2 linked regions of the Homo sapiens genome follow. The protein of the gene in region 2 interacts with the protein of the main gene of each other region in a biochemical or structural test. Each region holds a gene or a part of one and is shown on either strand. Other genes may lie near its edges.

What was found.
Region 1: the proteins of TOX2 (region 2) and MFHAS1 form a complex in vitro, tested with the Homo sapiens proteins (one large-scale study listed by BioGRID and IntAct).

The regions. Positions count from the first base shown.
Region 1 is NC_000008.11:8,890,542-8,894,938, reverse strand, and holds the start of MFHAS1 (malignant fibrous histiocytoma-amplified sequence 1), read left to right. Parts: upstream 1-1,308; 5' UTR 1,309-1,880; coding exon 1,881-4,397. UniProt on the Homo sapiens protein: Probable GTP-binding protein. Functions in innate immunity and more specifically the inflammatory response as a regulator of the Toll-like receptor TLR2 and TLR4 signaling pathways.
Region 2 is NC_000020.11:44,054,062-44,057,887, reverse strand, and holds part of TOX2 (TOX high mobility group box family member 2), read right to left. Parts: intron 3,590-3,826; coding exon 3,362-3,589; intron 1-3,361. UniProt on the Homo sapiens protein: Putative transcriptional activator involved in the hypothalamo-pituitary-gonadal system.

The sequences.
Region 1 (4,397 bases), on a different chromosome or scaffold from region 2:
TGTGAGCTCAAAGAAACATTTCCTAACAGCAATAAAAATAAGCATTAGAGTTGAACAATGGACTGTGACTGTTTCCCAAAATAGCTGTTTTCTTGAGTCCGCAGAACAACAGGTACTGTATTAATGGGGATACAGTATTTGTTTCACAGCGTTGTTGTGAAGATAAACGGGATACCCCAGATAAACAGCTTGTGTCCCCCCCATCTTAACAACCCTCCTTTAGGCTGGCGGGCCACCTGCTCAAAAGCCTTCCCCAGGGGGGTTAAAACCGTCTTTTAGTAGTTCTGGTACGGGTGGGCTGGGGGAGATCCTCTAAAGCCAGTGCGACCTTGACCCCAGCCAATGTCCAGGCTCTTGACACATCCAGAGAATGAGTTCAAGGACAACTCAGAAAATAGTGACAATATGCAGATTTATTGCAAAGGGAAAAGTACACACCCAGGAAAAGGGATTGTGGAGAGGGTCACTCACAACGGGGCTTGGGGCTGCTACCTTTATGGGTTTCTTTAACCAAGGGGTGAAATATTCATGAAAATTCCTGGAAAAGTGTGGAGATTTTTCGGGACTGTGGTGCCACCCATTTTTACTTCAAATATGGGTGTCCCCGGAATTGTCATGGCACTGGTGTGACTTAGGATGTTAAAGAGCGTATAATGGAGGCCTAGGAGAAACCTAGGTCAAATCCAGGACCACGTCGGGTCCAGCCGGTCTTAGCCAGCTTGGTACACACCCTGGTTTTCAGGGTCTTATCAGCCCATAGCCTCCAGTCAAGTGAAACTGCTGCCTGGTATTTTTTATTCTCCTCTGACCAGCCTGCATTACTCCTGTCCCATGTTCAACACGAAATAGGGCCTCAGGAAATATTTACCAAATGAATGAATGGTTGCCTGTTCTAATTTTGTTTAACCACACTCTTGTCCTAAGCTTCTATGATGATACCCAGGGCCCCCGAGTTGTGCCAGTTCCACTACGGCGTGGATGCAAGGCGAGCGGCAGGGGAGCAGGTAAAGGATGAGTAAGGGAAGCCGGCGGATCCGACGCATTAGAGAACAAGAAAAAGAAATCCTTAGAGACTGGGGGCCAACAAAGAGCCAGGCGCGGGCGAACCCACCAGGGGGGCCCCGGAGCCCCACATCCGCCGCTGGGACGACCTCCCCGCCCAGCATGGTCCGGGGCGCGGACCCGGCCCCGCGCCAGGCGCCCCCGGCCCCGCACCCGGCGCCCTCCGCAGCTCCCGCCCCCGGGGCGGTGCCGGGAAAACGCGGCGCCTCCGCCGGTCACGTGGGGGCCGCTCCGGCGGGCGGCGCTGCCGCTTCCCAATCGCGCCCTCCCAGCGCCGGGGACGCGGCGCCCGCGCTCCCGCCCGAGCCCGGGGAAACGGAGACAAGGAGGCGCCGCCGCCCCCTCCCCGCGGCTGCGCCCCAGCCCTGCGCCCGCAGCATGCCCGCCGCCGGGCCGAGCGCCGCCCTCCCCCAGGAGCTCGAGGAGGCGACGCCGCTGCCGGCCGCGGGACCGCGGCTGCGAGGGTAGCGGGGCCGGAGCCGGGCCCCCCGAGGCGCCGCGCGGCGGGCGGAGAGGGAGGAGGAGCAGGCATCCTCCGCGGCGCGCGGGCGGCGGCCCTGCTGCCCGGCGCGCCCATGGCCCGGCCGCAGGGAGAATGCAAGCTGCTCTCCACGCGCTCGGCGTCCCCCGGAGCCGCTCGCGTCGCCGCCGCCCCCTAGCCGCCAGCGCTCGGCCGCTGGCTGCGCTAGGACCCGCGGCCGCCGGCCGCCGAGCGCGGGAGGGCAGGCAGGGGCAGGAGCCGGAGGGCCCGGGGCGCGGCGCGGCATGTAGCTGCGGGCTCCCGCGTCCGCGTGAGGCTGTCGGCCCGGGGCCCCGCCATGGCTGGGATGGACAGTGGCAACCTGAAGACCGCGAGGCTGTGGCGGGACGCCGCCCTGCGTGCCAGGAAGCTGCGGAGCAACCTGCGCCAGCTCACGCTTACCGCCGCCGGGGCCTGCCCCGGGGCCGGGGCCGACGCGCTCGAGTCCCCCGCCTCCCCCCAGCTCGTGCTGCCGGCCAACCTCGGGGACATTGAGGCACTGAACCTGGGGAACAACGGCCTGGAGGAGGTACCCGAGGGGCTGGGGTCGGCGCTGGGCAGCCTGCGCGTCCTGGTCCTGCGCAGGAACCGCTTCGCCCGGCTGCCCCCGGCGGTGGCCGAGCTCGGCCACCACCTCACCGAGCTGGACGTGAGCCACAACCGGCTGACCGCCCTGGGCGCGGAGGTGGTGAGTGCTCTGAGGGAGCTGCGGAAGCTCAACCTCAGCCACAACCAGCTGCCCGCCCTGCCCGCCCAGCTGGGCGCTCTCGCTCACCTGGAGGAGCTGGATGTCAGCTTTAACCGGCTGGCGCACCTGCCTGACTCCCTCTCCTGCCTCTCCCGCCTGCGCACCCTGGACGTGGATCACAACCAGCTCACTGCCTTCCCCCGGCAGCTGCTGCAGCTGGTGGCCCTGGAGGAGCTGGACGTGTCCAGCAACCGGCTGCGGGGCCTGCCTGAGGATATCAGTGCCCTGCGTGCCCTCAAGATCCTCTGGCTGAGTGGGGCCGAGCTTGGCACGCTGCCCGCCGGCTTCTGCGAGCTGGCCAGTTTGGAGAGCCTCATGCTAGACAACAACGGGCTGCAGGCTCTGCCCGCCCAGTTCAGCTGCCTGCAGCGGCTCAAAATGCTCAACCTCTCCTCCAACCTCTTCGAGGAGTTCCCTGCCGCGCTGCTGCCCCTGGCTGGTCTGGAGGAGCTCTACCTTAGTCGCAACCAGCTCACCTCGGTGCCATCCCTTATCTCGGGCCTGGGCCGGCTTCTCACCTTGTGGCTGGATAATAACCGCATCCGCTACCTGCCGGACTCCATCGTGGAGCTGACCGGCCTGGAGGAGCTCGTGCTGCAGGGGAACCAGATCGCGGTGCTGCCCGACCACTTTGGCCAGCTCTCCCGGGTGGGTTTGTGGAAGATCAAAGACAACCCACTGATCCAGCCCCCCTACGAGGTCTGCATGAAGGGGATCCCCTACATCGCAGCCTACCAGAAGGAACTGGCTCATTCCCAGCCGGCGGTGCAGCCCCGGCTCAAGCTGCTCCTGATGGGGCATAAGGCTGCAGGAAAGACTTTGCTGCGCCACTGCCTCACCGAGGAGAGAGTGGAGGGATGCCCAGGAGGAGGGGACAAGGAGAAGTGCTACCCACCGTCACCTCCCCCTGTGAGCAAGGGCATCGAGGTGACCAGCTGGACGGCCGATGCCTCCCGGGGCCTGCGGTTCATCGTGTATGACTTAGCTGGGGATGAAAGTTATGAGGTGATCCAGCCCTTCTTCCTGTCCCCAGGGGCCCTATACGTGCTGGTGGTCAACTTGGCCACCTATGAGCCTCGCCACTTTCCTACCACCGTGGGCTCCTTCTTGCATCGGGTCGGGGCGAGAGTGCCCCACGCGGTGGTGTGCATCGTGGGCACCCACGCAGACCTGTGCGGAGAGCGTGAGCTGGAGGAGAAATGTCTGGACATTCACCGCCAGATCGCCCTGCAGGAGAAGCACGACGCGGAGGGACTGAGCCGCTTGGCCAAGGTGGTGGACGAGGCACTGGCCCGGGACTTCGAGCTGCGCTCTGCCAGCCCCCACGCAGCCTACTATGGCGTTTCGGACAAGAACCTTCGACGGCGCAAGGCCCATTTTCAATACCTGCTCAACCACCGGCTGCAGATCCTCTCCCCCGTGTTGCCTGTTAGCTGCAGGGACCCGCGCCACTTACGACGCCTTCGGGACAAGTTGCTGTCAGTTGCTGAGCACCGAGAGATCTTCCCCAACTTACACAGAGTACTGCCTCGATCCTGGCAGGTGCTGGAGGAACTGCATTTCCAGCCACCTCAGGCCCAGCGACTGTGGCTAAGCTGGTGGGACTCGGCGCGCTTGGGCCTGCAGGCGGGTCTGACCGAGGACCGACTGCAGAGTGCCCTCTCCTACCTGCATGAGAGCGGCAAGCTACTCTACTTTGAGGACAGTCCGGCTCTCAAGGAGCACGTCTTCCACAACCTCACCCGCCTCATCGACATCCTCAATGTCTTCTTCCAGAGGGATCCCTCTTTGCTGCTGCATAAGCTGCTCCTAGGGACCAGTGGAGAGGGCAAGGCGGAGGGGGAAAGCTCCCCGCCCATGGCGCGGTCCACCCCCAGCCAGGAACTGCTCCGGGCCACCCAGCTCCATCAGTATGTGGAGGGCTTTCTGTTGCATGGGCTCTTGCCAGCTCATGTCATTCGGTTGCTGCTTAAGCCTCATGTCCAGGCCCAGCAGGACTTGCAGCTGTTGCTGGAGCTGCTGGAGAAGATGGGACTCTGTTACTGCCTCAATAAACCCAAGGGCAAG
Region 2 (3,826 bases):
TGCTCCAGCTGACAGCCATCCAACTCCCAGAAGCAGAGATGCCTAATTTACTGTAGTTGACCACTGATGCAAATGGGTGAGCCCAGCCAAGAGCAGCAGCAGAACCATCCTGCTGAGCCCAGCACAGTTCATGGACCCTCAGAATCATAAGTTGAATAAATGATTATTGTTTTAAGCCATTAAATTTTGGTATTGTTTATTACACATTCAAAATTAAATGATGCAGTTAGCTTCATTATGTTTTAGTGTCAAGGTTACATTGTATATAAAGACTTGTGAAGGTTTTCTTATTTTTCTAAGTCTTGGAATTATTAGCTCTTTGATGATTTGAAAGAACTTTCCTATCCATCACCTAGGCTTGAAACTTTTGGGGGATAGGCAAGGTTTTTTTATTTCCTATTATTTTCTCACTACCTCTCTTGGTTATTAGTGTATTAATAGTAAAATAGGAATATAAGTCACATTTCTAAATGTGATTTCAAAAACTGACACAAGCTAACATCCAGCCTTATGCTTAATAGTGAAACATGAGAGGTAATGCAAAGTAAGAAGACCACTATCCCCGCCATTGCTGAACATCTCTTTTTTAGAAGTCCTAGTCAACATAACTGGGAAAAGAAAACAGAATTAGAAATCTGAGAAGTGAGGAGACAAAATAAGGAGATATGGCTGGATATAGTGGCTCATGCCTCTAATCCCAGCACTTTGGGAGGCCAAGGTGGGATGATCATTTGAGGCTAAGAGTTTGTCAGCCTGAGCAACACAGCAAGACCCTGTCTCTACAAAATACCAAAAAAAAGAAAAAATTTTGTGGGGCATGGTGATGCATGGCACGCCTGTAGTCCAGCTACTTGGGAAGCTGAGCTGGGAAAATTGCTTGAGCCCAGGAGTTCAAGGCTGCAGTGAGCTATGATCATGCCACTGACCTCTAGCCTGGGTGACAGAGTGACACCCTGTCTCTTAAAAAACAAATAACAAAGGAGACAAAATTATCATTTGTAAAAGATACATATGTATAAATATGTGTATAATTATAGACACTTTTTTTAAACCTAGAAGACTCAGGAATTAAAAATGATCAGAAATGATAAAATAAATAGTAAGCTTGGCAGTTACAAATTAAATTCCTAACTTTTTATACTCAACAATTTGCTAGGAAAATGGGGAGAAACAAGCCATTTATAACGCATTAAGTAAAAGAACGCATTAAGTAAAAGGAGAGAAATGCCCATTATCGGATGGAAATAAATATATGCCAAGTTCTTGGGTTAGAAATAAAACGTCAGACAGGTAAGCAGAAATGAAACCGACACAGGGGCTGGGACTCTCAACCACCTTTGCTTGCCTCTGGGCTGCGCTGAATGAGGTCAGAGAAAGCATCGGTGGAGGGAGTGCCCGGGGACATAGGACTTGAGACCACTGTCTCCCCAGACTGTATAAAACGGCAAGGAAATCCCCCCACCAAACAAAAACAACCTGAAGTCTTTTGAAAGGGAATTGGTTGCCAACGAAACACACAAGTGAAAATGACAGACGTCCCTATAGCAAAAGCCACAGTGCCCTGCCAATATCCCCCAGTCCTTACCCCTGTCCTACAAACATGCTCTACTTCCAGCTGCCACCGGCTATATTCCTTTGCCTGAGGGTCCCTCTGGTGGCAGGAGCCTGGCATGTGTAGCAGGCCAGGGGTGCTGCAGAAGTAATGTCCCCTGGAGCAGCTCTGAAGGAATGCTGGTGTCCACCCCAGCACCCTTGCCCCTCAGACAGGATGACCCTGAGGCCTGGCACGTTCTAAGCAGGCTCCTGAGTTCCCAGCGGGATTGTGCTCCAGTTGCCCATGGTGGATTCTCCTGGGACAATGTGCCCTTTCCTGGCTGCCCTCCTTTCCCTGTCTCATTTCCCCACTCCCCTACCAGAGGTGGGGATCATCTCCCAAATAAACTCTCTGCATTATAACATATTCCAAAATTACCTAAAATTTTAGAATACGGTAAAGATGATGTTTCAAATAAGTCAGTAATTCATCTCTCTGCCCCAAGCCTGCTACTTTCCCCATATTTCCCATCCAGTGACTGGCATCTCCATTTACTCAGAATGGAAGCCAGATGCAAGGAGGCTCCCAGGACATGCTCTGTGTCCCCTACCCTAAACCATTCTGGAAGATGCTCCAGACCCTACCTTCCCCCACCTGGATCACTGTGCACCCTCCACATCCACTCTTACCTGCCTTATGCTGCCGTTCCAGTCTCTCCTCTACATAAAACTCTTCACTGGTTTTCTCTCCTCTTAGAACAGGGCCTGACTACTTCCAAGGTCTGCAAAGCCCAGCGTGGTCTGGCCCCTGCCCTCCTTTCCAGCTCCGTCTCTGCCATGGGTACTCTTATTGTCTCCTCTCTGGCCATCCTGGTCTCCTTTCAGTCCCCTGTGCTTTTCCAGCCTCCTTCCTTACCAGGCCTCCCTGTCTGGAACACTTCCCCTCCTCCAAAGAGAACTCACACTTCAGGTCTCACCTGGTGACCTGACCCCTGGGACAATGTCCGTCCCTGCTCTTTCCACTCTCATGAACTATGTACCCTCCTGGTACACGGCACAATCACAATTGTAATTTTACATTTACTCATCTGCTTATTTGATTCATGTCTCTCATGCCAACAGCCCAGTTGAGCCTCCTGCTTCTACAGATGTGAGTTCAAATCCTGACTCTACCTTGATTCACGCTGGTGACCCTGGGTGAGTCACTTTACCTCTTGGTGTCTCTACCAAACAGGAAAGCAATGGCTACTCCACAGGGTGTTGTAAGGATTCAGTGACATACCGGGGGGAAAGCCCAGCCCAGATGTGAGCTCAGAGAAGGAGTAGCCAGCACCCCTGTTTTAATAGACATGAAAACCGAGGCTCAGAGAGTTTAGGTGGTCAGGCTGAGGTCACACAGCTGGCAACTCCATTTGCCTACCAGCTAGTTCTGCTCTCTATTCTCCCTGGAGGCCTTTAGAGGAGGCCACAGGCACATGGTCAGTGGGATAGGAAGCTCTGGCCTGGACTCCAGACTTTTAGGGTTGGTGGGACAAGATGGATGGAGATGCTTGTTCTCATTTTATCAAGGGGGAAGCAGAGGTTCAGAATGGTTAAGTTGCGGGAAGCAGAGGTTCAGAGTGGTTAAGTTGCTAGTAAATGCAGTTGGTTAGTAGAATTGGAAGGCAGCTAGCTTCCCAGTTTACAGATGGGCAACCTGAGCCCAGGAAAGACCTCTGTAAGAGTCTCTAGTTCCAGAGCTGGGCCTGGTTTCAGACCTTCAAAGTGTGTCCTTGGTTCCAGGACCACAAAGCCTCAGGGGATGGCCCAGAAAGAGAGGGAGGCTCACCTGCTTCTGTTCCTCTCCCAGGCTGTCCCACATGGAGGCCACGATTTTGGACACGTCACCGAAAGTGGCACTGGGGTTCTGACCCTTGATGGCGGCCTGAGTGTCTCTGAAGAAGAGTGCGTAGGCCGACACAGGCTTCTGCGGCTCATTGGGGTCCTTCTTTTTCTTCTTCTTCGGGTTCTTGGCCTTTTTTCCTGGGTCGGCTGAAGGTCTCTTTTCTCCCGAGATCTGCCCGAGTGAGAAGAGTCAGAAAACCAAAGAAGCCCAAGGGCCTCCTGCCAAAGGCGATCAACACAGACTTGGGCCGAGCTGCACTTCTCCAGCCCTGCTCATGCACAGATAACCACTCGCGCGATGGAGGGGGCAATGGACAGACAGACACACACACCCTGGGTGGGTGTTTAACTCATTAAAGAGAATCAGCATGATTGTAAAGTTGATTCAGAGAAATGCAGGAGGAGAAGA